2 linked regions of the Homo sapiens genome follow. The protein of the gene in region 1 purifies or fractionates together with the protein of each later gene. This does not show direct contact. Each region holds a gene or a part of one and is shown on either strand. Other genes may lie near its edges.

What was found.
Region 2: the proteins of SMYD3 (region 1) and KDM3B purify together in Homo sapiens (affinity purification with mass spectrometry; 2 studies listed by BioGRID and IntAct, with this or other methods). This does not show direct contact.

What each region holds. Positions count from the first base shown.
Region 1 is NC_000001.11:245,918,755-245,933,735, reverse strand, and holds part of SMYD3 (histone-lysine N-methyltransferase SMYD3), read left to right. Parts: intron 1-3,798; coding exon 3,799-3,866; intron 3,867-4,183; exon of another isoform or gene 4,184-4,201; coding exon of another isoform or gene 4,202-4,224; intron 4,225-5,702; coding exon 5,703-5,805; intron 5,806-14,981. UniProt on the Homo sapiens protein: Histone methyltransferase. Specifically methylates 'Lys-4' of histone H3, inducing di- and tri-methylation, but not monomethylation. Also methylates 'Lys-5' of histone H4.
Region 2 is NC_000005.10:138,348,628-138,363,665, reverse strand, and holds the start of KDM3B (lysine-specific demethylase 3B), read right to left. Parts: upstream 10,982-15,038; 5' UTR 10,871-10,981; coding exon 10,679-10,870; intron 10,520-10,678; exon of another isoform or gene 8,283-10,519; coding exon of another isoform or gene 8,235-8,282; intron 1-8,234. UniProt on the Homo sapiens protein: Histone demethylase that specifically demethylates 'Lys-9' of histone H3, thereby playing a central role in histone code. Demethylation of Lys residue generates formaldehyde and succinate. May have tumor suppressor activity.

The sequences.
Region 1 (14,981 bases):
ACATGGTAATACACTCATTTTGTAAGGTATTCACTTTGTGTGTTGGTATTGATTTTGCTATTTGTGTCTAATCTACCGGGGAATTGCTAACCTCAGGACACAAATGTCAGATTCTGGACCTAGACTCTGAACCAAATGACATAAGAATTTGGTTCACAGAACATTTTAAGTTTCACTGTAGTTGTTTTTATAAAATACAGAGGCTCAATGACAACTCACTAGATTTTTGTCATCTAGAAAAACTATAATATTATATATGAAGGCTTTCAATTAGTTTAAAGGAAAAATTACAGAAAGTAAATATAACTTTGCATTCAATAATAAAACAATTTAAATATGTGTTTTAGTTTTAAGACATGGTAAAAATTTCTAAAGTAATACTCAAGCTTAATTTTTAGAAAGAATTCATTAACCCAGTTGCATTTATTTTTTATTGAAGTAGTACCATTAATATTTTTTTCTAAATGTTATCTTTTTGTGAAGTAAGCATTCATTAATTGTTTTAACCTGTGCAATTCCCTAAGAAAACTGTTTTCACAAAGACAGTACTTTGAAAAATGTTTAAACTTTTATTTCTGGGCTTTATTTCCATTCTTTTAATTCTTGATATAAAGAGCAATTCCTTTCAAATTATTGAGCACACATGGACATATTATCTACCTATTCTTGCACTAAAAAAAAGCCAGAGAGCTTCTGCATATCCACTGTTGCTATCAGTTGTGTATGTCAAAAATATTTCCTGTCAGGTTGTTAATTGAGATAGTGCTGGATGGAGCCAGCATTTTAAATAAAAGTGAGAGTAGGCAAAAAACTAAACCTTCTGTTTACTAGCCCAGAAAGACTAACACGTAACACTCAGACTAATATAGATGAAATCCAGGAGCTATGGCTCACTCCTGTAATCTCAGCATTTTGGGAAGCCGAGACGGGAGGACCACTTGAGGCCAGGAGTTCAAGGTCAGCCAGGGCAATATAGCAAGACTCCTGTCTCTGCAAAAAGTTTTAAAAAATTAGTCAGAGGTGGTGGTGCCAGCCTGTAGTCCCAGTTACCCCGGAGGCTCTGAGGGTGGATTACTTGAGCTCCGGAGTTCGAGGCTGCAGTGAGCCATGATCGCACCACTGCACTCCAGCCTGGGTGACAGAGTGAGACCTTGTCTCTAAGAAAAGGAAATAGATTTATTAGTGTCTTCTGTTTGCCAGGCTTTGAGCCAGGTACAGGACTAGAGTGATGAATGAAACACTGTGTCTGCCCTCCCAAGTATTTTACGATCCAGTTGTGTATGATGGCAAGTAAATGGGTAAATAATGATCCAGTATGATAAATGCTGCTAAAGAGGGAAGTCATCTTAGGAAATCAGGAAGAGTTTCCCAGTGGAAGAGACAAGCAAGCTGACATTTCCTCTTGTTAGCTTTTCCTTCTTAAACATTCCATCAGAATCCATGAAATAAACCGATGGAAAAAAACTGATAAAGATTTTTCCTATTTTGAAAAAACCGTTAATTTGCTTCATAGTCCAGGAAAAAACCATGCTGGTTTGATTCAGAAGTTAACAGATCAGATGTGTTTGACCTGGTTTTTTTGTTGGTGGATTATTTCAACTAAAGTTCTCATTATACTTTAAAATATTTGTTAAAACTTGTATCCCTTCCCAAATTATACACATTTAAAAATGTTTAAAATTTCAAAAATTAAACGTAGGACTTTCTGTCTTATATTTTTACCATCCAATTTATACATAAGTATATATAGACAATGTACTGTTGCTGCTTAATGCAAAATAGTTGTCCTTAAAGCAATTTAGCATTTGTTTACAAATATATATGTATAATTTTGCTCCTGATTTGAAACTGCAATTTTATATATTTAGAGGGAAAAAAGCCAAATCATGCTAGAGTGCACTAGATTTCATGTAAGAGCTGTTTGGAGCAGTGGAAGAGTCTCAGAGGACTCAGTGTGTTTTCATACTTCGTGTTCTTTCATGTAAACCTGATTTGAGAAATTCGTCATCACTTTTTCCTTTACAGAAACTTTATAACAAGTCAGCATCCATTTGTAGTCTCTGGTTCATCTCAAATGTTTAGCCTCTTCTCCTTTTTTTGTTTTTTGATGGCCTTTGTCATGTTTCATCCTAAATTTATATCTCTAGGCGCAACTCCTCTTGTGAACTCCAATTGTTCATTCTTAGTCTTGGCTTGGATTTCAAATTTAACTTAACCAAAACAGAACTGTTGGACTTGCTCTCAACTCCCTGTAACCAAATTTGTTCCTGTTAAATTCTTCCTCATCTTAATAAATGGTAGCTATGATCTTCCACTTGCTTCGGCCAAAAACTCGAGCATTATCCTGACTCCTTTCATTCCCCACAAGCCGTCCCGCAGTAAGTAAGGCCTGTTGGCTGTGCTACCCAGTTCTCCTGCTACCGACATCCGAGTCACCATTGTCTATCACCTGGGCTATAGCAGTGACTTCCTAACCATTTTCTCCACTTCCATTCACCTTTTTATAGCCCATTCTCTACACAACAGCCAGAATGATCCTTTTAAAGCAGAAGTCAGACTCCTTCATGCCTTGGCTCAAAATCCAGTGGCTTTCTATCTTCTTCAGAGCAAAACCCAAATATGGCAGTAGGGCCGTAAGTGATCCCACTCCGTCTTTGAGCTCGTGTTTTGCCCCCTACTTTCTTGCTCCGCTTTGGTCACACTAGCCTCTTTGCTGTTCCTCTGTTACCACGGGCATTCCTAGCGTAGGGCCTTCGCACTTGCTCTTTCTCCTGATATGAGCCTTTATCGCCTATAAATACACACGTTCATTTCAGCAGTCCCTTCAGGTCATTGCTTAAATGTCAACTCATCCTAAAGAGCTTTCTTGACAACTTTTTTTCTCTGTAAGGACCTTGTTTCTCTCCTTGGCATTTATCTACATGTGACAGTTTTCTATCATTGGGTTTTTTAAAAAATCTGTGTATTCAACTAGAACTTGAGCTCCACGGAGGCAGGAACTTTTGTTTTGTTTTTCTTCACTGCTCTTTTCCTCGCACCTGTCTGAAGCAGTGATTTTAGCCAGAATCTAGATTTCCTGATTCTGGTCCAGTGCTCTTTCCATGGTTCTGTGTGACCTCATACATCAACCTTATTTCACAAACGAGGTTTTTAAGTTCCTTGAGCACAGTCGATTGTGTTTTTTACTGCTTCTGCTCCGTCCCTGCATAAGACAGGACTGTGTCATGTACCCAGTGATGGACTCCTGGTAAATACCATGGCTTGACTAAATGACCTCCAGTGCTCCCTGTGGTCTTCACCAACACGCATCAGACGACAGGCTCAGTCACGGGATACTTCGCTTTCTGTAGGAGTAAGAGACAAGTTGCTATCACTGAACAGATACACAGTGGCATTTGGAAACTGCATGCAGTTTGAAAAAATCGTGATACAGCAGGAGTCTAGTTTTCAATAAATAGCTTATTCATATTCTGGATTTTGAACAGTTCATGTAACTGTAACTTTGGGGTAGTGGATAATGAGACTGAAATTAATGGTTCCTCTGCTGGTTTCCGTCTGTTTTTTTTTTTTTTCTCCCAGGAGGTTGGTATTTCTGCACTTAACCACCTGATGTTTTTAGGGGGAGTATATCCCAGATAAATTCTGTTGTAAGTCAAAGAGCATCCATGATTGGCTTGGCTCTTTCTTAAGCAACTACTAAGATGCTCCTACATTTGGGTTTGAACGTTTTTTATTCTCTTGGCTATGAAGTTTCTTAAGTGACTCTAGTAATACTGATGGTTCCCCTTGTGTTTACAGGTGATCTGCAACTCTTTCACCATCTGTAATGCGGAGATGCAGGAAGTTGGTGTTGGCCTATATCCCAGGTATGGTGTATGGTACTTCATGTACTGGAAGACACACTTTCATTCCCACCCAAATCCCCAGCCCTTTGGAGGTAGTTAGAAAGGCAGTTGCTGCAGCTTGTTCAAGAGCCAAGCTTAAAACTTAGCAATAAATTACAAAAAAATGGAAAATGTTAAGTTGAAAGAAAACAGTTTTATAACCCCACATTATATGCTGTGATATTAACAAAGGGGCAGATCTCAGAACTAAACTCTTGTTCTCAGGGGGACTTTGGGTGAAGAAGTTGAGGACGGTGGGTGCTAATTAACCATCGGGCTGATTTTTGGTTATTCCCCAGTTTCCTGAGCTGCAGCACATGCTGATTTCACCGGACTTGCCGTACGTATCAGTTGGGTTCATGTTGTCTTTCGAGTTGGCACACTCTGAGCCCTTTCACTCAAGGAGGCAAGAAAACTCTCAGGCTTTGGCCCCTGAATGCTCTCTCCAGCTATTGCTGAGCTGACTCTTACCACTGAGCTATGAAACCGTCTCTCCACAAGCACTATAGGCACACCCAGTTTCATTTTGTTTTTATGCCATAAGAGTCCAAATACAAATTTAGACTTTCTAATAATTGTGAATCTAAGAATTCAGCCTTTTTTCTTATTTCTCACAATTGTCATTAACTGTAGGTCAGGTCTACTGGTAGGTGGTTCTCAAAAGGCAGTAACATAGGATGATTCAAAGCATGGGCTCTGCGTTCAGGCCACCTGGTCCAAATTCCATCACCACTTACTAGCTGTATGTCCTTGAGCAAGTCATTTAATTTCTGTGCATCAGTCTCTTTACCTGTAAATGATCCTCATAAGATTGTTGTGAGGATTAAATGTGATGAACATGCTCAAGTGCAAGAAAGTGTTTCTACATAGTAAGTGCTCATTCTAATTATTACCAATTCCTGATAGCAGCTTAAATCCATTTTGTTTCCCAGATGGTAAGAAATGTCCCTCCAAGGTAATAAAATGACTGGACCATGGCCCAGGATGCATCAGGATGTAGGTGGCAAAATAACGTCAGCTCTCTATTTAAGAGCAAATAGTCCTAATTATTTTTCAGTGTGGATGTTCTAGCAAAGGCGGCCATTTCTCCAAAGGAGCTCAACAAATGAGATCCTATGGGAGAGGTCAGTGGTATCTTGGCTGCTGCATCCCATTATGTCTGAGTATTTTTTTTTTTTGAGATGGAGTCTCACTCTGTCACCCAGGCTGGAGTGCAGTGGTGCGATCTCGGCTCACTGCAACCTCCGCCTCCTGGGTTCAAGCGATTCTCCTGCCTCCACCTCCTGAGTAGCTAGGACTACAGGCATGTGCCACCACACCCAGCTAATTTTTTTGTATTTTTAGTAGGGACAGGGTTTCACCATGCTGATCAGGCTGGTCTCAAACTGCTGGCCTCAAATGATCCACCCACCTCGGCTTCCTAAAGTCCTAGGATTACAGGCGTGAGCCACCACACCCAGCTGTCTAAGTATTTCTTTCTGAGTCAGTTTCTTTCTGACCTTCGTGTTGGGTTGCCTTATTGACTGTTATCTAATCAGTCAACTATGCCCCAATCCCCAAAAAGGACTCAGGAAATTTTTTTATTATTAAATGACGGAATTCCCTAGTTAGCCTGCATCTTGAGGAGAATTGCACTTCGTGGGAGGTGTGCTAGTGACATTTCTGTGAATGCATCCCCGAGTACTGAACCCCTGGCATCCTGTCAACCCTACCTGCTGCTGCCCCCCAAAGGAAGGTGTATTTTACCCACTGCATTTGTTAAATTTAGTTGACTCTACCTGCTGAGCTGTGACAGTCTTCCCCCCTTTTTTTTTCCAGTATCTCTTTGCTCAATCACAGCTGTGACCCCAACTGTTCGATTGTGTTCAATGGGCCCCACCTCTTACTGCGAGCAGTCCGAGACATCGAGGTGGGAGAGGAGGTAAGGAAACTCATGCTTCCCAGCCTGGCCTTCTTTCCTATCAAAGACCCTCTCAGCTCGGCCCGTCCCTAAAACTGATTGTGCCTGAGGGGACAACTTTTCATTGTCCTTCTGCCAGTGAGAGTATTTGTAGTTCAGTCACCTCTCCCCAGCAACCTATCCTTTCTTCTCCCAAATTACAAATGGGCTAATTTTTTAGGGGAGAGGTCACCATATTTCTGGATGATGACAGTTCCTGTCCTGTGTGTGAGAGAGAGAGGAGTTTGTGTATGACAGAGGGTGTGTGTTTTATGCACACACAGGGAATTCATGAAATCTCCTCAGTGGCAACAGCTGAGCAGCCTCTCATATCCTTCCGTGGGCAGGGGGGGGCATCCCAGCTTGTGAGTGGGATCCCCAAGACTTCTTCACTCGGAAGGCCACTGGCTACATTGAAGGTAATGATGCATGTTAACTTTGTGCTAGTAAAGCAAACAGCTTATACTGTCTCAGGCTGACATTGGGACTTGACAAACCCATCAGCATCTCTGGGTGATCATTTCAGCAAAGATGCAAAGGGAATAGAGGACAGGGAGGATGACCTCCAGCAGTGAACTGGCCTTGACCCCTCCAGTTTGACAGACTGTCCAGCCAGCCTCTTTTGGTGCAGAACCTTCTTACAAGACAGCTGCAAACGGGCTGCTCCAGGGCTCTGAACCTAAGCTTGCACTGGTTTGCACAGTGACTACCCATGCTGAGTTCTGAGTTACAGATATTTCTACTTTCCAGAACCCCGTTTCCTTCTCCTTTCCAATTTGCTAAAGTGGATATTTATTGCAAGGAAAACAGTACTGAAAGCTTTTATTGCATTTATGCAGCACTCAGCCAATAAAACCTCAACTCAGAGGTACCATATTTTATGTAGACAGGGATTTGGCTTTGACAAGATTCTCCCCAAACTGATTTTCAGTGGAAGGAGCCACTTCTTATACAACTACTCGCTAAATTTCCAGATTTTAGGACCAGTGTATGAAATATACTGGGATAGATGTCAGTGAGATGGACAATGTAGTTTTTTCTCTTTTTTTTCTGGGGCCGCAAAGGACTTCAAGGCAGGTAAGAGATGAAACCGCTATCTATTTTCAGCAATATTCATTTGGGGGCTGAAGAGCGGCTGCTGCTGTTGTCGATGATGACGATGTTTTTGCAAATTAAAAAACAAACCAAGTAACTTGACAAAAGCAATTAGAGTTGGTTGGAATTTTCAGAAACAACAAAGAAAGTTTCTTCTATTTTCCTAGGCTCGGCTGCCAGTCATTCTCCCGTGGTTGCTTTTCATTTAGTTGAATAAGACACCTTGTCTTTAGGTGCTGCTTTCACTTTTTCACATCTTTCTCTTTCCATCTCTGGAGCAACAAGCAAATCCTCCCTCTTGCCAAATACGAGACATTTCCACTCAGTGTAAAGCCCTTCAGACTCAGATATTTTTCCCTGTGGTACTTAGCAAGGCATCTTCTCAACAAAAAGAAGGTTCTCCCCACAAGTCCTTCATATATACCAGTTTAAGAGAATAAACATTTCTCCATTCCATTTTGTAGGTCTTGCTGAACAGTGTTTCCCCTGATTCATCATCGTTTCTGTCCACTGTGTCTCTTTGTCTTAATGTTATATGCCCTTCGAGGCTGTTTGTTATGATTTAAACATGTCCCCCAGATTCCATCTGTTGAAAACTTTATCCCCAAATTCTTGCTGATGCTTTGTGGAGGTGGAGTCTTTGGGAAGTAATCCAGATTAGATAAGGTTATCAGGGTGGGAACCCCATGATGAGATTGGTGGCTTTATAAGAAGAGGACACTCCTGCTGCCACCTCATGTGACGCCCTCTGCCATGTTATCAGGCAGCAAGAAGGCCCTCCCCAGATGCCGGTGCCATGCTTTTGGCATCATGCTTCCCAGACTCCAGAACTGTGAGAAATTTATTTATAAATTACCCAGTCTGTGGTATTCTGTTAAAACAGCAGAAAATGGACTAAGATACCCTTTCAATCACATCTCTTGTGTAACTCTTTCCCTGATTTCCCATATTAGAAGAAGTTCTTTTCCTTTGAGTTCTCGCTTATAGTGGTTATTAATACATTTTTGGCACATATTATGGCTGTTTTGGAGACCTCTCTATTTAGAGCTTTATGAGGACAGACAATCGTGTCTTATTTCTGTATCTCTTAGCACTTAGCTTTGCATCCAGGAGGCATTTGATAACTTTTTGTTGAATCGACTCTCTATTATATTGAGCTTACTCTAATGACCGGCAGTATTTCTTGTGGGGACACTATTGCCATTTTGAATGGGACAGTTCTTCATCGTGTGGGATTGTTGCATCATTGGAGAAGACTTGTGTCCTTGGCGTGTGCTTAACTAATGCCTGTAGCCATCCCCCAACAACTAAAATATATCCTATGCCTTTCAAACTGACCCCTTGGAGCAGAGGTAGGGGAGAGGGAGAGCCATGAGAAAAGACAGTTTGAGGCATTGATTAAGCAGGGTAATTCCTATTTATTGTACAAATATTAGCTTTAAATTAAGGAATAAATCTAGACATTTTGTGTTCCCAACATACAAAAATGGTAAATACATGAGGTCGTGGATAACCTAAATACCATCACTTGATCATTACACATCGTATGCAGGTAGCAAAATAGTACCTGGACCCCATAAATATGTATAAATATTATGTATTAATTTTTTGAAAGTTAAAATTCCTTGGGAAAAAATTTTAGACATTTTGGTAATTTCCTATCATGAACTTTGCATTTGGCTTTAGTGCTCATTAGGGCACCCACAGTTTTAATATGAGCTATTTGGGATCTGAGTGTCAGAATATGGGATTCACAATGGAAGACTCAACAGCAACTGAGGCAGAAGTTCCTCAATCAACATTTGTTGAGTAAATTAATGAGACTTCTTAAAGATAAAATAAGAGCTGGAATAGGGCTGGGCACCGTGGCTCATGCCTGTAATCTCAGCACTTTGGGAGGCTAAGGGAGGTGGATCACTTGAGGTCAGGAGTTTGCATCCAGCCTGGCCGACATGGTGAAACCCCGTCTCTACTAAAAATACAAAAAATTAGCCAGGTGTGGTGGCGCACACCTGTAATCCCAGCTACTGAGGAGGCTGAGGCAGGAGAATCGCTTAAACCCAGGAGGCGCAGGTTGCGGTGAGCCAAGATCGCACCATTGCACTCCAGCCTGGGCGACAGAGTGAAACTCCATCTCAGAAAAAAAAAAAAAAAAAAAAAAAGCTGGAATAGAGTCTCAGACATTTACAAATGACTGGCAGTCCTCAGTGGTGTCCCATGGCTCCTGAAAGGAAGGGAATATGAAAGCCAGTCTACTGCCAGTTTAAGATGGGAGCATTTCAAACCTCACACAAGGAGAGCTGGAAAATTGCACAAGGTCTGTGATAACAGAAGTTGCCATGGAAATTTCTCACCCCATGTTTCTCTCTATATAAATCCATCCTTTGGACCCTCTTTGGACAGTTTCCTTGCAAACCAGCAACATTTATAATACTTTGCTATTTAAGGCTCTCCATTGTAATGCTGAGTTATTGGGTCTTTTTTTTTTATTTGACTTTGGATTTTTGTCTCCTCATTCAGCCGCCTCCTACAGAGAGAGATGTGTAATATCATTTAAGTCATGGCTCACTTGACTGGATTGCTGATGGCTACCTTTTCAAAATTATCTTAAATATGAGATTCATTTGTTCTGATAGTTTTATAAAACATGGATCAGGGAGGAAAGCTGGGTAGGCCAAAGCAGTCTTATGGTAGTTCCTGGTTAAAATAACTTGTAGCTGTTACAAATAATGCCATTGGCTGCCAGCATTCTCTGGCGCCATATCAACTGGGAGAAATGTGATTGACACAAGTTGAATGCATTAGTATCCCTAATGTCAGTCTTAATCTGATGTCTTTTGGGATTAAGACAGTCTGTTTCTTCTGTTAGTCATCTTATTTGCTAAACCATTAAACGAATTCACTGCATGTTTACTGGATGTCAGGAGTTGGTAGCAGTTTTAGAAACCTTCTCTAATACAAAGATTATTAAGACCCAGCCCTGACTTCAAGAGTTCAAGGTATAGTTGAGGAAACTGACAGAGAACAGAAAACAATAATAGAATTAAGATGCACAGTGGTGTAAATGGGCACAGGCTTACAGCAGCTCAGAGCAGGAGCACTCGAGTGATTAGTAAGGGGAGGGAGTGGAGAGTGGTTAAGGAATGCTTCCAGAGGACTGACTCCTAGACTCTGAAAGGATCCATGGAGTTAGAGTTGGATGAGGCTGGAAAAGGCATTGTAGACATAGACACAGAGGCCAGGGACAGAATGGTGAGTTCAAGGAGTAGGAAGCAGTTCTCATCAATAGACGACGAAAGAATTTAGATGTGACCCGAATTTGAGGGAAGATGTAGGGATCAGACTGACAAACCCCATGGGAGCCTTATCACAGACCTTGGTTTAGCTGAAGGTTTCATAACATTGGCTGGTCTATAGGAGGCGCCCAGTAAATATTTGTGTAAGGGAGAAGGACGAGCAGCGGGACATGATTGAAGGGTTTCAGCAAAGGAACTGCGTGGCCAGATTTTCTTGTTTTTTTTTTCCTGCATGTTTACAAATGTTACTGTTTTTTATTGTATGTACTATACATAAAACACTTGAAGAAAACAATTTTTAAAACCCCACCCAATTCTAACCCCTGAGTTAGATTTGGGATATCACAAACGAAACATTTTACTCAGTGTACATTCAATTTTACCTCAGTCACTGTTGCTGTAGTGTGAGTTTTTCTCAACTCGTTGAACCATATGATTGAAACGTGATGTTTCCTTTGCCTTTCATTCACTTTTTGTATATACGACCATGGCTATGATGATAGGGAATATTTATAGGGTGATTCAATTTAGGAAGCAATAGATGAAGCCTAATAGGTAAAAACAAAAAACAAAACCCAAGGACTACAAAATTGAGTAAGACCTAAGTAGTCTGTACCATCTTTGGAATCTTAGAAAACTCAGATAATGTTACATATTCATTTTTTTTATTTTATGGAAGAAAATGTAAGGTTTAAACTGGGAAATGATTTGTTCAGTGCTACACTTACTACTACGCAGTGTGGAGGGGGTTAGTAATAAAGCTTCATTCTCAGGATTGAAGTAACAAATTATTTACCTAGGACAGTGCCCAGCACATGATGCTTACTACATAGTGATTTTCTTCTTCCATTTGTGATTAGAGTTTCCTGAAGGGAAAAGTAGAGCTCAAATGGTGAGTGTCCAAAAAAAAAATATGACATTAGAGATTTCTCATAAATTGTGGAAACATATTTAGAGAATCTATCAAAACTATAGTAAATCTCATCTTACGTATCAAAGCAGAATAATTGGTCTTTGGTGGAGGTGGTCTGGCTGATGTTTGGACTCGGCAAGAAAGATTGCTACAACTGTTGAATAACATTTGGTTTGTGTATAGAAGTGTTGGTCCATGATGACATCTACACAGATTATTTTCCATTCTTAAATTAACATTTTCTATAGGCAGTCTTTGTTCTAATACATGCTCCTCTGAAATTGAAGCTGAAAGTGTTATGACCAGTTTCACTTTAAATGAAGGTACCTTTAAGTCTGAAATGAGCCGGTGCTTTCAGGTTTAGGCTGTTGAATACAAATACATACAAGTTTGATTTTTGTTTTTGGCTTAAGATGATAAAATTACTTTTAACGGGGTTTTATTAAATTATATTCAATAAATAACTAAATTGTGATTTCACAGTTAAATTCATTATAAAAGTCCCTGCCCCATTCTTAAGAATGGATAAGTGTAAAAGAAATGTAATTTCATTTACCTTTTGAATTAAGCTAAAAGAATATTTAGTAACCTAATTGTGATTTTTAAAAAAATAATTTCAACTTTTATTTTAGATTCAGGGGGCACATGTGCAGCTGTGTTGCATGGGTATATTGCATGATAGTGAGCTTTGGGGTGTGATGAATCCCATCACCCTGGTAGTGAACATGGTACCCAACAGTTTTTCACCCCTTGCCCTACCTCCCTCTCTAGTAGTGCCAGTGTCTGTCATTGCCATCTTTATGTCCATGAGTACCCAGTGTTTAGTTCCCACTTATAAGTGAGAACATTGGGTGTTTGGTTCGATAGATTCTCTAAATATTTGTTTCCACAATTTATGAGAAATCTGTAATTGCTGGGTTTGGTTTTCTGTTTCTGCATTGATTTGCTTAGGAGAATGGCCACTAGCTGCATTCATGTTGCCACAAAGGACATGATGTCATTCTTTTTTATGGCTGCATACTATTCCATGGTATGTGTATATATATATATATATATATACACCACATTTTTTAGCTCACTGTTGATGGGCACTTAGGTTGATTCTATTTCTTTGCTATTGTGAATAGTACTGTGATGAACACGTGAGTGCATGTGTGTTTTTGGTAGAATGACTTATTTTCTTTGGGTATATACCCAGTAATGGGATTGTTGGCTCAAATGGTAGTTCTGAGCTCCTCTCCAAACTGCTTTCAACAGTGGGTTAACCAATTTACATTCCCACCAATAGTGTATAAGTGTTCCCTTTTCTCCACAGCTTCACCAACATTTGTTATTTTTGGACTTTTTAGTAATAGCCATTCTGACTGGTGTAAGATGGTTTCTCGTTGTGGTTTTGATTTGCATTTCTCTGATTAGTGATGTGGAGCATTTAAAACCATGTTTGTTGGCTGCTGGTATGTCTTCTTTTCAAATGTGTCTGCTCATGTCTTTGGCCCACTTTTTACTTGGGTTATTTGCTTATTGAATTGCTTAAGTTCCTTATAGATTCTGGGTATTAGACCTTTGTCAGATGCATAGTTTGTGAATATTTTCTCCTATTCTGTAGGTCGTTTGTTTACTTTGTTGATAGTTTCTCTTGCTGTGCAGAAACTCTTTAGTTTAGGTCCCACTTGTCAATTTTTGTTTTTGTTGCAATTGCTGTTGAAGACTTAGTCATATGTTCTTTCCGAAAGCTGACGTCCAGAATGGTGTTTCTTAGGTTTTCTTCTAGGGTGCATAAAGTCTGTGGTCTTACATTTAAATTTTTAATCTTTGTATTAATTTTTATATATGGTACAAGGTAGGTGTCTTCTGCATATGGCTAGCCAGCCGTCCTAGCACCGTTTATTGAACAGGATGTCCTTTGCTCATTGCTTATTTTTGTATGACCACTTTTCTATGTGTAGGCAAGGTTGGGAGAATGAGCGTCGGGGTGATGTAATAATCCAGGGAAGAGATAACAGTGGTAGCCTGAAGTCGGGGAGCTCAGGTGGTGGCTTGTGATAGGGTACCTGAAGACTATAATATTAAGAAGATAAAATTAGCAGGATTTGTGAAACAAGGACACAACTTGTGAAACAAGAGACACAAAGATACTCAGGTTTGACTTTAAAAAGAAGTGACATTTTTCAGGCTTTTTTCCAGTTCAGAGCCAGTATTAACAGAAACATTCATAACTGTGATCACGGAATTCTAGAAATGAAACAAGGTCTAATTTTAACTTGGTCATCTTTTTTTTTTTTTTTTTTTTTTTTTTGAGACGGAGTCTCGCTCTGTCGCCCAGGCTGGAGTGCAGTGGCATGATCTCGTCTCACTGCAAGCTCCGCCTCCCGAGTTCACGCCATCCTCCTGCCTCTGCCTCCCGAGTAGCTGGGACTACAGGCGCCCGCCACCACGCCTGGCTAATTTTTTGTATTTTTAGTAGAGACGGGGTTTCACCGTGTTAGCCAGGATGGTCTCAATCTCCTGACCTCGTGATCCTACCGCCTTGGCCTCCCAAAGTGCTGGGATTACAGGCGTGAGCCACCGTGGCCGGCCTTAACTTGCTCATCTTATCCACTCAGTTGTAGACAATGAAAAGATGGTTTCATGGAAAAGGAGTTCATTTTGTCTTGAGATTTTAATGTAAGCTATGTATTCAAGATCTAGAAAATCTCCTTCATTATATTACTCTAATGTCAGAAATGATTTACTGCATTTTCTATAAGAGCTGCACTAAAATGGCAGAGCAGTGGTCAATGGCATTAATATTTTAATGCAATTTTGTTCTGTGCCATTAAGGTGTCTACTGATCAATGGCCAAGTTTCACATATACATTCCCACTAAATGAGCCTTACATTTACTGAGCAGATATTCCATTACAACTAGTGAGTCAATGAGTCTTTAATAAAGGTTTTTATCTTTGGCTAATAACATGATTTTAGCTGTCATTACCAGTTAGTAATCTGGCTGTTTTTTCCCAAAAATATGAATAAAATATTTTTGCCATTAAGCACTTCACAATTGATAACCAGATATTCTGCAGACTTCATTGGCATAAAAGAAGCACAAAAATGGGTGGCTTTCTCTGAGGTAATGGGGCAGTCGCCATAGGAAGAGGTGTATTTGAGCCAAGCTTGGAGGATGAGAGGCTCTCAGGAGGCTGAGTGTGGAGGAGAGGCTCGCTTAGCCAGTGATGCCCAGACACATGTTGGCATGGTGTTCATTGTTTCAGAGGTCTAGCAATGTACATAACTGTGACAGGCTGGGGTTCAGGGAGAGACATGGAGGCTAGAAAGGCAGACAGAAAAACAGCTGAGGGAAATCCTTGTGTGCCTTTATTCAAGGGCAGTGAGAAACCATCGCAAGTTTTTATGTAGAGAAATGACGTGATCACATGTGAGTTTTAGGAAGATCTCTCTCAAAGCAGTTTAGAAGATGAAAGGTACACTGCAGGCAGCGGGGAAGCCAGTTAGAAAGCCATTGCGTAGTCCAGGTAATGGTTCCAGGCAGTTACAGTATGCCGAGGGAGGCTTTAGGAGCCCATTTATTGGGGTTAAATGAAATAACTAGTCTCCTGTTGGCCATTCACTGCCTGACAAGATCACTCATGAGTTTTGGCCCTTGTAATAAAGTCTTGGGTTAGTCAAGCACATTTTTTTCTGGCATGACAGGCCCTGGAGTTAGTGGCTTCACACTGGGCACACTGTAATCTCCCAATAACTACTGTCCATTTACCTGCTCTGATAATGGGAGTTGATGACTAAGAGCCATTGGGCTGGATTCAGAATTAGTGTCCTAGAGTTAACCCAAGAGGGGACATAGGGATGCGCTC
Region 2 (15,038 bases), on another chromosome or scaffold:
CTGAGGCAGGAGAATCACTTGAACCTGGGATGCGGAGGATGCAGTGAGCCGAGATCACACCACTGCACTCCAGACTGAGAGACAGAGCGAGACTCCGTCTCAAAAAAGAAAAAAAAATTATTAGAATAATTTCTACACTTTGTATAATAGGCATGTATTACTTTAGAATCAGAGAAAGAAAACACCAAATGCTTCAAATCTAAGAAAACAACCCAGATGCAAATCACAAAACTAAGGGCCAGTGTACCTTGGATTGGAGTCCCAAATGTGACTCCAATATCAAGATGAAAAAATTAACAGTGAGTCCGTATCAATAAAAACATGTAAAAGAAAAAATTTAAAGATTATAAAGACAACGGGGCCACGGAGTAGAAATTCCGTAATAAATCGGAAGTGAACATCAGCCTAATAGGGGCTTCAAAATGTTCTACTTTTTTTAGACAGAGTGGTCAGGGAATAGAAGAGAAAAAACAGAAAAATCCGTGTTTCCTGACCTCCATGAATTTACTATCTAGTAGAATAGATAAGCAAGTGTGGAGGATGGAAGACTTTCCCTCTACCTTCTGAGGGTTAGGTGATTGAAATAAACAGTCAGCAGTTTAAGGAAAGAAAAATAATACAAATTTGTTACATGTAAGGGGCATCACAACAAGGAAAAGTAAATACCCAGAACCCAGTGAGACTGAGAAGTTTTCTTATATTTCTATAGAAATTATAGAAATATGTTTTATATAATTATATAATTATCATATAAAATTATAGAAATAATTATTGGGGGGAGAGGGGAGGGATAGCATTAGGAGATATACCTAATGTAAATGAGTTAATGGGTGCAGCACACCAACATGGCACATGTATACATATGTAACAAACCTGCACGTTGTGCACATGTACCCTAAAATTTAAAGTATATAAAAAAGAAATAATTATATAATTATACTATAAAATTATAGAAAAATTATATAATAAAATTATAGAAATAATTATATAACAAAACCATAGAAATAATTATATTTCTATATTTCTTATAGGCAACTTAGGGGAGAGTAAACCACGTACACTATTCACTTAAGATATTTTGTGTGTGTGTGTGTGTGTGTGTGTGTGTGTGTGTATACACATATATGTATATATATATCCTGGGCTCAAGTGATCCTCCCTATAGGTGCACACCACTGCACCCGACTTAATGATTTTTGGGAAAAAAAAATCAATGGGCCCTCAGAAGAACAGGTGACAGCTAAGGCTGTCTTTCTGCATGTGATATAGACCTCCAGTCTCATCTCCTGTGATAGGAATTAATCTTCCCTGGTTCATAAGGTTAGCAGGGAAGGGATTCATGACAATAGAGTTCCTTCTTTTGTTTTTTTTTTCAGGCTGGAGTACAGTGGTGCAATCTTGGCTCACTGCAACCTCTGCCTCCCAGGTTCAAGCCATTCTTGTGCCTCAGCCTCCCGAGTAGCAGGGATTACGTGCGCCACCATGCCCGGCTAATTTTTGTATTTTTTAGTAGAGACAGGGTTTTGTCATGTCGGCCAGACTGGTCTCGAACTCCTGGCCTCAAGTGATCCGCCCACCTCAGCCTCCCAAAGTGCTGGGATTACAGGCGTGAGCCACAGCGCCCGGCCTAGAGTTCCTTTTGGAGGATGTGTCTTTAGGTAGATGAAGTAAGTTCAGAGACAGCCCTCCATCTGCTGCTCCCCAAGTGCCTTCAGTTTGAGATCCAATGCAGCATATTTTGGGGTGGCGTTTCCTGAACTTCTTCACAAGCTATACATCTTGCTACACATATCTATAACAAGAAAAACTACAATAAATATTCCAAAAAGTGGTATCCACAAAGTGCTAAAGGAACAAAGAATAAAAACAACATGCTGGGGAATCAGAAAGGCTTTATAGGGTTTGTAGCTCCTAGGATGCATGGGCCTGAAGGATGAGCAGGCTTTCTTTTCTCTGTATAGGATTTCAATGGATGACAGCATTAAAAGAAAAGTTTAAAGAAGGAACAAAGCAACGGAAGCCAGAAAATACTAGAAAAGTGAAGGATCACCAAAATCAAGGCTGCTTGCTTTAAACAGCCTTTTGGCAACACCCAATTTCCCTTGTCCAATTCTTTGCACATCAAGGACCCTTCTTATAGTAATTTGGTCTCTAGAGCAGAGCAGGAAGGGGCTCTATGCAGATCTCTGGATAGGTATACCTCCCACTGTAAATTAATAACCTTGCATGTGGATTTACAATTCAGTCTCCAGAGTTTGGTTAGAGAGAATCAGTCCCCTAGAGCCTGATTACCTCTGAAGTCATGAAAAAAGGAAAAAAAAAAAAAGGAGTTTCAGCCCTTAGAAAACTGAAGGAGGTCACACTATCTGAATCACTACTAATCAGGCAGGTTTTACCCACCTAGAGATCAAGAGCAAAAGATGATGCTTTCGCACCAGGGGCAGTAGGGATGGTACAGTGGAAAGGGCTTAAAAACCACCAACCTGTCAAAGGCAGTGGAAAACTGAGAAGCATCAACAGGTGTTGCATCCCCCAGGCCTTGTGGAAGCAAAGCCTATATAGAACCCACCCCAGCTGTTGCAAAGAAAATCACAATGGAAAATGCCATGTTTCTTACCCACCATTTTGAGTCTGCTGGTGGAAGGGGAACTAAATAAATAAACTACAAGTTGGAGAAGAGACCCAGGAAGCTGTGTATTTAAAAAAAAGGGAATGAACCCTTGGCAGGTGGGGAGTTAGTGAAGCAAGTCCCTTAGAAACAAATGGAAATTAATGGCCGGGCGTGGTGGCTCACGCCTGTAATCCCAGCACTTTGGGAGGCCAAGGCAGACAGATCACTTGCGGTCAGGAGTTCGAGACCAGCCTGGCCAACATGGTAAAACCCTGTCTCTATTAAAACTACAAAAATTAGCCAGGTGTGGTGGCAGGCACCTGTAATCCGAGTTACTTGCCTGTAATCCCAGCTACTCAAGAGGCTGAGGCAGGAGAATCACTTGAACCCGGGAGGTGGAGGTTGCAGCAAGCCGACAATGTGCCACTGCACTCCAGCCTGGGTGAAAGTGAGACTCCGTCTCAAAAAAAAAAAAAAAAAAAGAAATAGAACTATTAAAATTCACACACACACACACACACACACACACACAATCTTTTTTTAAAAAATCAACTATACAAAGTGCTTGAGTGTCTGAAAAACTCAACCATGGCTCAGTGTTTCAAAAACAGACCTGATGCTGTAAGGGGAGAGTTAAGATGATGAGTGTGCTTAGACGGGCTCACAATTAAACAGTATATAGTCTTAATGTCAAAAAGTACAATGTCATTTTTATTTAAAGTTCTCTAACCATACACAGAATCACAAAAACATATTCTATTTACATTAATAAATAGAGCATAAGTATCAAGGTATCACTCAGAGTTTCAACTTTTGGAATTGTAAGTAATGAAAGGACACAAACATTTTTAAAACCACAAACTCCCATTTCAACTAGGGCTGAAATTCTATGTTTGACCATAGGTAGCGAATTGTACACTGGAAATACGGTAAATATAGTACTATCCTGAACCTGACTATAATTATTACATTATTTAGAAACAAAATAGAGAGGTATTTTAGAGTCTACCTACCCCACCCTGAGACAGAGGAAAGGTTCGGTGGGGAGGTGTAAAAACAGAAGGCAGATACACTTTCACTCCTCCTGGAAGACTCTCAGATAGAAGAAACATAGTACTAGCCTAGACATTGCTACAATTATTACATTATCTCTAATCAAAGGAAAGGAGTATTTTAGAATCCGTCTTTCCTTGAAAGAGAGATGAAAGATTAAGGGATAAAAAAAAATAGGGCGGATATGCTTTCACTTCTCTGGTAACTTCTGGATACATGAGATAACTATGATACACATTCAAAACCAAGTGATACTACATGTACAGCATCATTTAATTACACCTACAGAAAGAAAAGAATGGTTTACCTAAAAAAATTAGTGTTGCCACAACTGGTCACTCAGCAGAAAACAAATTAGGTCCCTCATCTCACTTGCCAATTACAAAAATATTCCAGGCCAAGTGCAGTGGCTCATGCCTGTAATCCAAGCACTTTGGGAGGCCGAGCTGAGTGGATCACTTAAGGCCAGGGGTTTGAAACCAGCCTGGGCAAAACTGTGAGACCCAATCTCTTAAAAAAAAAAAAAAAAAAAAAAAGGTGGGGGGGGCACGGTGGCTCACACCTGTAATCCCAGCACTTTGGGAGGCTGAGATAGGCAGATCAGCTGAGGTCAGGAGTTCAAGACCAGCCTGGACAACATGGCGAAACCCTGTCTCTACTAAAAATACAAACATTAGCCGGGCATGGTGGCACACGCCTGTAATCACAACTACGCAGGAGACTAAGCCAGGAGAATCACTTGAACTCTGGAGGTGGAGGTTGCAGTGAGCCAAGACCGCACCACTGCACTCCAGCCTGGCTGACACAGTAAGACTGTGTCTAAAAAAAAAAAATAAATAAATACACCATGGAATACTATGCAGCCATAAAAAATGATGAGTTCATGTCCTTTGTAGGGACATGGATGAAATTGGAAATCATCATTCTCAGTAAACTATCGCAAGAACAAAAAAACAAACACCGCATATTCTCACTCATAGGTGGGAATTGAACAATGAGAACACATGGACACAGGAAGGGGAACATCACACTCTGAAGACTGTTGTGGGGTAGGGGGAGGGGGGAGGGATAGCTTTAGGAGATATACCTAATGCTAAATGACGAGTTAATGGGTGCAGCACACCAGCATGGCACATGTATACACGTGTAACTAACCTGCACATTGTGCACATATACCCTAAAACTTAAAGTATAATAATAATAAAAAAATAAAAATAAAAATAAATAAATAAATAAATAAAAAGCTGAGAATCATGTTGTGCACCTGTAGTCCCAGCTAATCAGGAAGCTGAGGCAGGAGGACCAACTGAGCCCAGGAATTTGAGGCTGCAGTGAGCTATGACTGCACCACTGTACTCCAGCCTGGATGACAGATAAAACCACTCAAAAAAAAAAAGGCTGGGTGCGGTGGCTCATGACTGTAATCCCAGCAGTTTGGGAGGCCAAGGCGGGTGGATCACCTGAAGTCAGGGGTTCAAGACCAGCCTGGCCAACATGGCGAAACCCCGTCTCTACTAATAAATAAAAAAAAATTAGCTGGGTGTGGTGGTGCACGCCTGTAATCTCAGCTACTGGGACTGGAGGCAGGAGAATCACTTGAATCTGGGAGAGAGAGGTTGCAGTGAGCTGAGATCGCGCCACTGCACTCCAGCCTGGGCAACAGAACAAGACTCCGTCTCAAAAAAAAAAAAAAAAGAAAGAAAGAAAGAAAAAAAATTCCCGCCGAGCGCGGTGGTTCAGGCCTGTAATCCCAGCACTTGGAAGGCCGAGGCAGGCAGATCACCTAAGGTCAGGAGTTCGAGATCAGCCTGGCCAACATGGTGAAACCCCATCTCTACTAAAATTACATGGTGGTGGACGCCTGTAATCCCAACTACTTGCGAGGCTGAGGCAGGAGAATCGCTTGAACCCAGGAGGCAGAGGTTGCAGTGAGCCGAGATCACACCATTACACTCCAGCCTGGGCGACAAGAGTGAAACTCTGTCTCTAAATAAATAAATAAATAAATAATTCCATGCCAGGCACGGTGGCTCACACCTGTAATCCCAGCACTTTGGGAGGCCGAGGTGGGTGGATCACCTGAGGTCAGGAGTTCCAGACCAGCCTGGCCAACATGGCGAAACCTAATCTCATGCATGCCTGTAGTCCCAGCTACTTGGGAGGCTGAGGCAGAAGAATTGGTTGAACCTAGGAAGCAGAGGTTGCAGTGAGCCAATATCGCGCCACTGCACTCCAGCCTGGGCAAGAGTGAGACTCCGTCTCAAAAAAAATAAATAAATAAAAATAAAAAAATAAATTCCAGATGTACCAAAAATCTAAAGGTAAAAATAAACAAAAATGTTGGCTGGGCATGGTGGCTCACGCCTGTAATCCCAACACTTTGGGAGGCCAAGTCAGGCAGATTGCTTGACTGGAGTTCAAGACCTGCCTGGGCAACATGGCAAAACCTATCTCTATACAAAATACAAACATTTGCCAGACGTGGTAGTGTGCATCTGTGGTTCCAGCTACTTGGGAGGCTGAGGCGGAAGGATCACCTGAGCCCAGGGAGGTCGAAGCTGCAGTGTGTTGTGACTGTGTCATTGCACTCCAGCTTGGGTGACAGAGTGAGACCCTGTCTCAAAAAAAAAAAAAATGTTTTTTAAAGTATATTTATATAGGTTCAAGATGGGGATTCCTTCCCAGTCAAGTAATCCTAAACTATTAAGAAAAGTCAGGCCAGGCACAGTGGCTCATGTTTGGAATCTCAGCACTTTGGGAGGCTGAGGCAGGCAACTGCTTGAGCCCAGGAGTTCCAGACCAGCCTGGGCAACATGGCGAAACCCCATCTCTACAACAAATACAAAAACTAGCCAGGCCCGGTGGCGCATGCCTGTAGTCCCTGGGAGGATTGCTTGAGCCCAGCAGTGAGCTGTAATTATGCCCCTGCACTCCAGCCCGGGAGACAGAGCAAGACTCTGTCTCAAAAACAAAACAAACAAAAAGAGGCCCGATAATTCTGATAACATAAAATTCTTATTTTTCTGTATAGCAAAGCAACCCATAAAAAAAGTCAAGAGGCCAGGCCCGGTGGCTCACGCCTGTAATCCCAGCACTTTGGGAGGTCGCGGTGGGCACAGATCACGAGGTCAGGAGATCGAGACCATCCTGGCCAATATGGTGAAACCCCATCTCTACTAAAAATACAAAAAATTACCTGGGCGTGGTGGCACACGCCTGTAGTCCCAACTACTCGGGAGGCTGAGGCAGGAGAATCGCTTGAACCCGGGAGGCAGAGGTTGCAGTGAGCTGAGATGGAGCCACTGCACTCCAGCCTGGGTGACACAGCGAGACTGTGTCTCAAAAAAAAAAAAAAAAAAAAAAAAGTCAAGAGACAAGTGAAACAAAATACAACCCACTACGCAGGTGAAGGAGTTAATATCCATGCACAGAACTTGCAGAGAGTGGTAAGACAACTCCTATTTTTCTCAAATGAGCAAAAGATATCCATAAGTAACAAATAAAAGAAATGAAAAAGCCAGTACACATGGAAAAAAAGGACAAATAGTCATGAAAATTATGGATATTGTTTTTCACCCATCAGATTGGCAAAAATGAGAAAGACTGATGATACCAGTGAAGGCAAGGGTAAAGAGAAACAAGCACCCTGAGTACTGTTGGTGGGAGTAGGAAATGCTATACACCTACTGGAAAATAACCTGGCATTATGTAATAAAATAAAAAATACATATACTTCTTAACCGAACCATTTCAACCCTGGATTGCTAAACTACAGAAATAAAACCTGGATTACATAAAAATATGTATACAAGTATATTAATGACAGCATTGTCTATACTGCCAAAAAAACTTTAGATAACCTGAATGTCCATTAACAGGAGGAATAACTGAATAAATTATGGTACATCCATTCTATGGAATATAAGGTAGTTACCAAAAACGATGAGTAAAATCTGTAAGTATTGATCCCCATGGTATACTGTCAAATGAAAGAAAAAAAAGGCAGGGTGCAAATATTGTGCAGTAGGACACCATTTGCTAAAAAAAGAGGGAACTCTTTGTATACGGTTGAATGTTTTCATGTTTTTTGTACTAGCATTAAGAAAGATGAGCAAAGAGATTGCTGGTTTTTCTTGTGTAAACCTTTGTTTGACATTTTGCAAATTACAAGCTTTGCTTTTATAACCAAAAAAAGGAAAATCCATGGGTTTCTTTTTTTGGTCTGTTTTATCTACAATACCCATATACGTGACGGTCCCAAGGTCTCTGCAACTTACATGAGCCAATAATGATTTAGGAACACAAAGAGGACACCAGATTAGGAAAGAAAAGCCAGAGATAAATGCATACAACCCATAAACTAATTCTAAAAAAATAAAAGGCCCATTTTAAAACACAAATAAAATTACTATTCCACTAGAAAGTGGGGGAAAAGCTGTTTTCATGCCTTGGCTAAACATCTGAGTAATTTGTCAGCATGGCTTCTGCTGGTGAAGATGTCCACCTATGAGAACCTTATCAACAAAACTCTCAATCAACAGGATCCTGACTCCTTTTTTTCACATCTCACCTTAAGGTAGCACTTGGCTTTGTTACTGTTTTCCAAAAAAGGTTTCATTTAATGGATCAGTACTGTATTTTATAGGATATCTGAATCAAAAAGTATTTAGAAAGAGATGTATTCGTGGAATCTAAAATTAAGAAGTGTGTTTTCAATCACTTCAGAAACTCATTCATCCAACCCTCAATTACTCATCCTTAAAAGGGGGCGCCCTGCTAGGCATTACTCAAAACCAAGCATGCCTGAAAACATCTTAAACATAACTGAATGAAAATCTGCCCAATCACAGGCCAGCTGCTTGCAAACTCCACCCTTGAGTACGGGAAGAACACTTTTGATTGGAAGACAGTTGTGTTTACTACCGTGTGTGGTGCAAATTGGAAAGGTCCACATGCCTACGGTCCAAAGGAAATCTCTCTTAATGAGAAAAAAAGAAAACGGCCCATTCTCATCCTACACTGGTCATTGTCATTAATAGAACCTCAACAAAATACCAATTCTTGAACAATTTTGCAAGCTGGTGAAAAAATCTAAAGGCTCTGAGTTTTGGTCTGGCTGTTTTCTCATCTATGTCCCTGGATATACATGTAAGACAAGCATAAATGTATTCTCAAAATACAAACCTGCCTTTGCTTCTACATTCACACAGCCCTATGCAAGACCTCAACACAGCTGTAATGTTCTTTGCTTTAATTTCCAAGAATCACTGCAACTTTTTACTTGGTTTGAGAACCCAGTTCCGTGGGATCAGTGGTAAAATTATTCAGTATTTAGCTTAGTGGGTGTCCAGCAAGGAAGTGAGCTCCAAAATCCTCTGCCCTTAGGGAGCACAGCAAACGACAAAGTGAATGGGGAGCCATTTCAGGTGCAGAGCTCATTAGCAATTCATCTGATGGAGGAAACGAGACGACCACTGCAAGAACCAGAAAAAAATCCCAATGAATAGCTAGGGCAAAGTAGGCCTTCGGTCAAAGTATGCATATAATAGTGGATCTTAAGTATGTTTTGCCTCCAAGGTGGTAGAATGAATCTGAAATGGACACTTCTTTTCCCATCCCAGCCATCTTTTAAAGAAAGCGCAGAGGAATAGAGATCCAAATCCCAGTCTTAATCATCATTCCATCCCCTTAAATTTTTAGTATCTTTTTGCAAATTTGCCCCACTGAGGCCTTATAAATGTCCTAGTAACGTTTCTTATACAGCATGAAGAAAAATCAAAGCAAATGAACCCAAGTAGCAGAAGCAAAGCCTAAGCCATCCACAAAAAAAATCCATAAAGCTTGTATATTAGTGAAAAAGGACAGTCTAACACCGTTGATCAATAGGAAGAAAAATGAACATCGGAAGCCTACAACATTACTTCCAAATCTCACAAACTGCGTTCCCGTTTATATCTGCAAAAGCAAGTTCATCAAGAAAATTTACTTTCTGCTTGCTGATCTATTACATTCCAAAAGACCACCCCCTGCCCCAACACGCACACACACCATTTTTCATAGCCTTATCTCACCAGAGAAGCTAGGGCCCCTATCAAAATGAGGAAATAAAGTGGCTTGCCAAAACTCAAACACTATATTTTACCGCCACATTAACGAGAATAACACATCATGATCCCGAATGCTAGTTAAGTTGTATGACTGAACAACTTTAATCACAAAACACACCAAGGCATTCAAAAAGGGCCAAGCCCAAACACAAAGTTTCAAAACAAAACCTCTCCCAAGGTTGGGGGAGTAGCTGAGCTGGGAGCAAAAAGCACTACCCAGCAGCCCCGTTCGGCCACTAAGAAAGATCTCAAACTTAACAAAAACAGCCACAACTGCAGCTCCTGTCACCCAGAAGCGTTAAGGAAAGGAGAGGAGAGCTCGAGACAGTGCCGAGAGCTGGCCTTTCTGGAGACCGCCAGGCCGAGCCCAGCTCAGATGAGGAAGTAACTGCCAGATAAAAAAGCCCCGACCAGCTCCAACTGCAGCCTCCGTGCCTCCCATAACTGCCCACATTCCCGCCCCACTTGGGGCTCTGGGAGAAAAGGAACAGGGCGCAGGTCTCCTGGGAGAGGCTGGGGACCACAGGTCCGCGTCTTCGAGAGGGCAGCGGCAACACTGGCCGAACTCTGAGGCTCCCGGGAGCTCAAGATTCGAGAGCCTGCTCCGAAGGCGTGTTGGGGGGAACGCCGAGAAAAGGGTCGCCCAGGAGGCGGGGCCTGCTGGCTGCAAGCAGCAGCTCCGGACGCCCTGGCCGCCCCCCGGGGGAAACCGGGGCGCACACCCCGACGCGGAAGCCATGCCGGCAAGCGCTCGGGGTGCGGAGGTGCCGGCGGGGGGCGCTAAGGAGACCCGGGGGCACGGAAATGGGTCACCCCCATCCCACCGCCCCCTCACAAAGGCCCCCGGGGAGGCCGCCCGCAGGCCCCGCAGCCCCGGCCTCGAGTGCCCGACTCGGCCGCCACTCACCGCTAGGTCCTGGGGCACCGCCCCGCTCATGGCCCGCACCGTGCCGGCCCGCCAGGCTCGAGTGCGCAGCGCAGGCCCCGGATCTCCGCTCGCCGCTGCCGCCGCGGGAGCCGAGGCCGAGGCTGAGGCCGCAGTGTCCGCGAACAGCAGCAGCAGCCGCTTGCCCACCGGGGAGGCCGCCGCGTCCGCCATCGCCGGGGCCGGCCTGACCCGCGCTCCCGCCCGCCGCCTCCCACCACCTCCGCCGCCAAGCGCCCGATCCGCCCGCAAGGCCTCCCTCCGCACCACCCGCGGCCGCCGTTCCCCCCCACCCCCCCCAACAGCCACCACCAACCACCGGCGCAGCGCAGCGCCCCCCGTGGCCGGGAGCGGAGCCGCAGCCTGGGCCCCGCACAGCGCCCCCCGCGCTCTGGAGCGGGGCGACAGCTCCTGGCCCCTCGCAGCGCTCCGCCCCAATCTCCCCGGGGCCTGCAGTGCCCCCTGCGGTCTGGAGGGGAATTGCAGGTCCGGCCGGGGTAGGGAAGTGGGCGGGTCCTTCAGCTTCCCCATGGCATCATCCCTGGTCTCAATCTTCCTTCAGGGAGTCGTATATATGAGAGGGCTTTAGCTTGCTCTCCTCGGATACCAAAGACATTTACGGGGTAAGGGGGTGAGGGGCAAGGTACCTAGAGAGTGGATGTTTTGAGCTATTTAGTGTCTCCAATACCCCCATTGATTTCCTATCCTGAAAATATGAGCTCCTACCTGCTGTCTTGTAGGAAATGTTCTCCCCATTGGTCCATGAGACACAATGTCTTCCTTCTCAATGGCCCATAACAGCACCATCCCATTCTATACTGCCAGCACTTCTTAGGTTCCTTTCCAATTGGCCAATGTATTACTTCCATTGGATGTATAATGCCACTCTTTCCACTGACTGAAGGCCAACGTGCCCCCCAACATCTTGGTGTTTTTCCTAAAACCGACCTAACTTCTTCCCCTTCCTAGTCTGCCAATGTTATTAAGTCTACGTGTTTCTCCATTCAACTCTTAGGGGAACTGGAAATAGACCAACAGTAAAGGGGTTCTCTTAGTAGCACTCCATCTTACCATGGAATTAGTGGGGCTGGGGGCAAAGAAAATTCTGTAACTCTTATCTGAATGCATTTAATACAGGTGTGGGAGACTGATAGCTCCTGATTAGAAAAGGAGCCTGCAGAGAAAGTGAGATGCTGAGATTTTTGGCTAGATTGTTACCCACAATAAGCAACAGGAAATTGCCTCAATCATTTAAAGCTGGCAATATCAGGGACTAGCACATTCCATGGTCTCATGGATGCAGAGACTGAGTATACACAAAATGGATACAAAAGATAAAGGGTATAGTAATAACCCATGACTGTTGTTCTAAAAGTGACTTTTTGATTTTCCCTACAGACAGGAAATAGTGGTAGCTGGTTCTTTCTCCAAGGCTTCTGTGCCTACCCCAGCTATCTCCTGTCCATAACCTTGTCTACACCCTTGACCTACTTTTCTTGTAACAAAGGCTTGGGGAGAGGGGTAACCAACTATTGACTTTATACTTTTACTAAAGTATAAAACATATAGGAAAATCATTCTAGAACCAACCCTGTGGAGCACCAAGGAAACATTCCTCCCTCCACTTCTTTTTAACTTCCATCTCCCACAGCCAACCTGAGGCCTGACTCAGAATGTTTTTCTGGGCTGAGAGCCACCTCTTAAAGCACATGGCCCATAAGCTGTAGTTGGTAGGAGGGGAACAAGGGTGAATCCATACAAGATCTATCTGCCTTGCAATTTTTCTATCAAAATTATCTGCTGGGATTTTCTCCCATACAGAGATTTAACTACTGCCCCAATGTCCAAGGCTAGTTTCTCACAGCAGAGAGACAGAAATGTACCTAAGTTCACGGATGGGAAAGGCAAAAGGGAAATGCATTCAACAAATGTGACCAGCACTTTTCATGTGCCAGGAACTTCCCAAAGTGTTGGGGACACAATATTGAATAAAACAAAACTCTTGCCCTCATGGAGTTTACGTTCTTTCCTATATTAACAAGACTTCAGGAATGAAAAATAAAATCACACTTGGCCTCACAGAAAATAGCAGAAAAATCCAACAAAAATAAACTCAAAAGAAAAAAAGGGGGAAACAAAGTCATTTTAGATGTTCAAACTTTACCCCTGCTCAAGCAGTAGGTGAAATGAAACATCAGTTTTAAAGAAAAAAAACCCTGTAATTCTAAGCTTCTTTAACCACATGCCACTGCCCACCACTTCCCCAAAGCCCTTCCTTTGTTTCCAGGGCAGGTGACAACCCTCACTTTTTCTAGGGTGTATGTGCACCCCTGCAAAGATTCCTGCTCCAGGTAGTCAAGTCAGTCCTGTCCTGCACACACTTCATTGGTATTCAATGATGAGTGCCACCAATTTGAAGCAGGAAACCAGGACATAAGCTAAGCAACTTGACTCTTCTTGCTGCCTGGCAAATTAGCACCACAACTGGTAAAGAAAGGCTAAGCCTTAGAGACAGAGGCTCCTGCCTGGATCTCTAAGCAACTACACTTCACCCACACACATTGGAAGAATGTCAACATAGAGAGAAGAAAGGGTGGAACAGAAAGGTCTAAAGAGTGAGCCACATAGCTTCTTTTGGCAAACCAACACTCCCAAAGGAAACATTAGGGAAAATACTGTCTTCTACAACAAAAGAGAAGCTTTGCAGCTAGGATTATTTTCCAAAAGCAGTATTTTTAGGATGGAAAAATTGCCTAGGTCTATGGAATCTGAATTCTGATGACTAAACCTCTATCTCTCCAGGATGTAACATGTGAAAACTTAAGAAAGATCCCTGGCTGTCTCCCACCCTGCCTTCTCCCTACTTCCCAAAGCCTACAAACCAATCTAGACAAGTTCCTGACTGTACCATAAACCATTTCTCAGGGAGCTGGAATGCATTCATACTTGACTTCAACTTGCTGGAAGTGAGAGTGACAGCAGGCAGGAGGAGACAAGTATAACTGCCAGGGAAAGAGAGACCAAACCAGACTGCCAAAAATAACCAAGGCCTTAGCAGAAGCCTGGGCCACAGTATAACATCCTGCCATGGCCGGCAAAGGGCCTAGGGTCCAAATACTGCCCCTTTTTGAAAGGTTGACCCACATCTTAGATGAAGGGGCTGGAACAGTTAGGTGGCCTTCTACCCTGCTTCTTCCTTGTCTTTGTGGGGAAGGGAAGAAGACACTGTAGTACACAAGGTTGCTTGGGAAAATGGATTATTCTAATAAAACTTTATTTTTTCAAACACAGCCACAGAGGCAGAACCTCATGTTTAACACACACAGACTTATGGATTTTTCTTTTAATATAAAACAAAGTTTACGAAAATTTTTTTCCACTTTTTGTATTTGTAATCCCATTAGCACAGGGACTTTGGCAGCAGGTGGGAGTGAAGGGCAGCTGAGCTGCCACTGGGCAGTCACTGGGCACAGGAGGAGAGCACCAGCCTGGGGAGTGGCTTCACTCACACACACAGGGATACTCACCTACTGGCCAACCACACTACACACACAGCACAGATGCAGACATTGACCCAGTGTCAGCCACATGCCCTGGAGGTGTGCTCCACTCTGGGTAAGCCCAATATGTGAAAATTCAAATAGTCAAAACAGCTAAAGTGGAGGGAGGTTGCTTGCTTTACAAAAAGAAGCAATCATAGGCTGCTTTTAAATGGTCAGCAGTCCAAATGCATTGAAAAATAGCATTTGGTTTACACAGAACTGTTGGAACAGATCTACTGTGTAAAGCAAAATGAACCAATTCTTGAAAAGTGTTCCAGGGCCACAGGTTCTTAGATTGGGAAGCAAGATGACAGTTCTGACTAGCTTAGTTTTCCAGACTGAAAGTAATGGAATTAAAATAATGATAACTGTAGACCTTCTCCCCTAAGGATGGTGCCCTGGGGCTTTGGGGAAACCAGGATGGAGGCAGAATCACTGCCTCACTTCTTCAGCTTAGGGCCTACAGAAACTCACTGGCATTGCCAGTAACCTGTTGGAAGCTGGCACAGCCAATCTACAGCAGAGAGCCCTGGGATGAGGATGCCCCAGGAGGAAAAGAAATTGGCACCAGGGAAATTATGGCCTGAAGAGGGAGAAGAGCCAGGGGAGGAATGAAACCATAGATGGGCAACTCCTGGGCTCACAGTTTCCCTGGATTCTCTAGAGGGCCTCTCTCAGGCCCCTAGAGACCTGGTAGCCTAGTGGTAACTAGCCAGGAGATAGGGAGGAGCCTCTGAGGGCCAGAGGCTTAAGAAGACATAGCCACCTCCTCTCTGGAGTGGAGACGAGGAGGCTGAAGC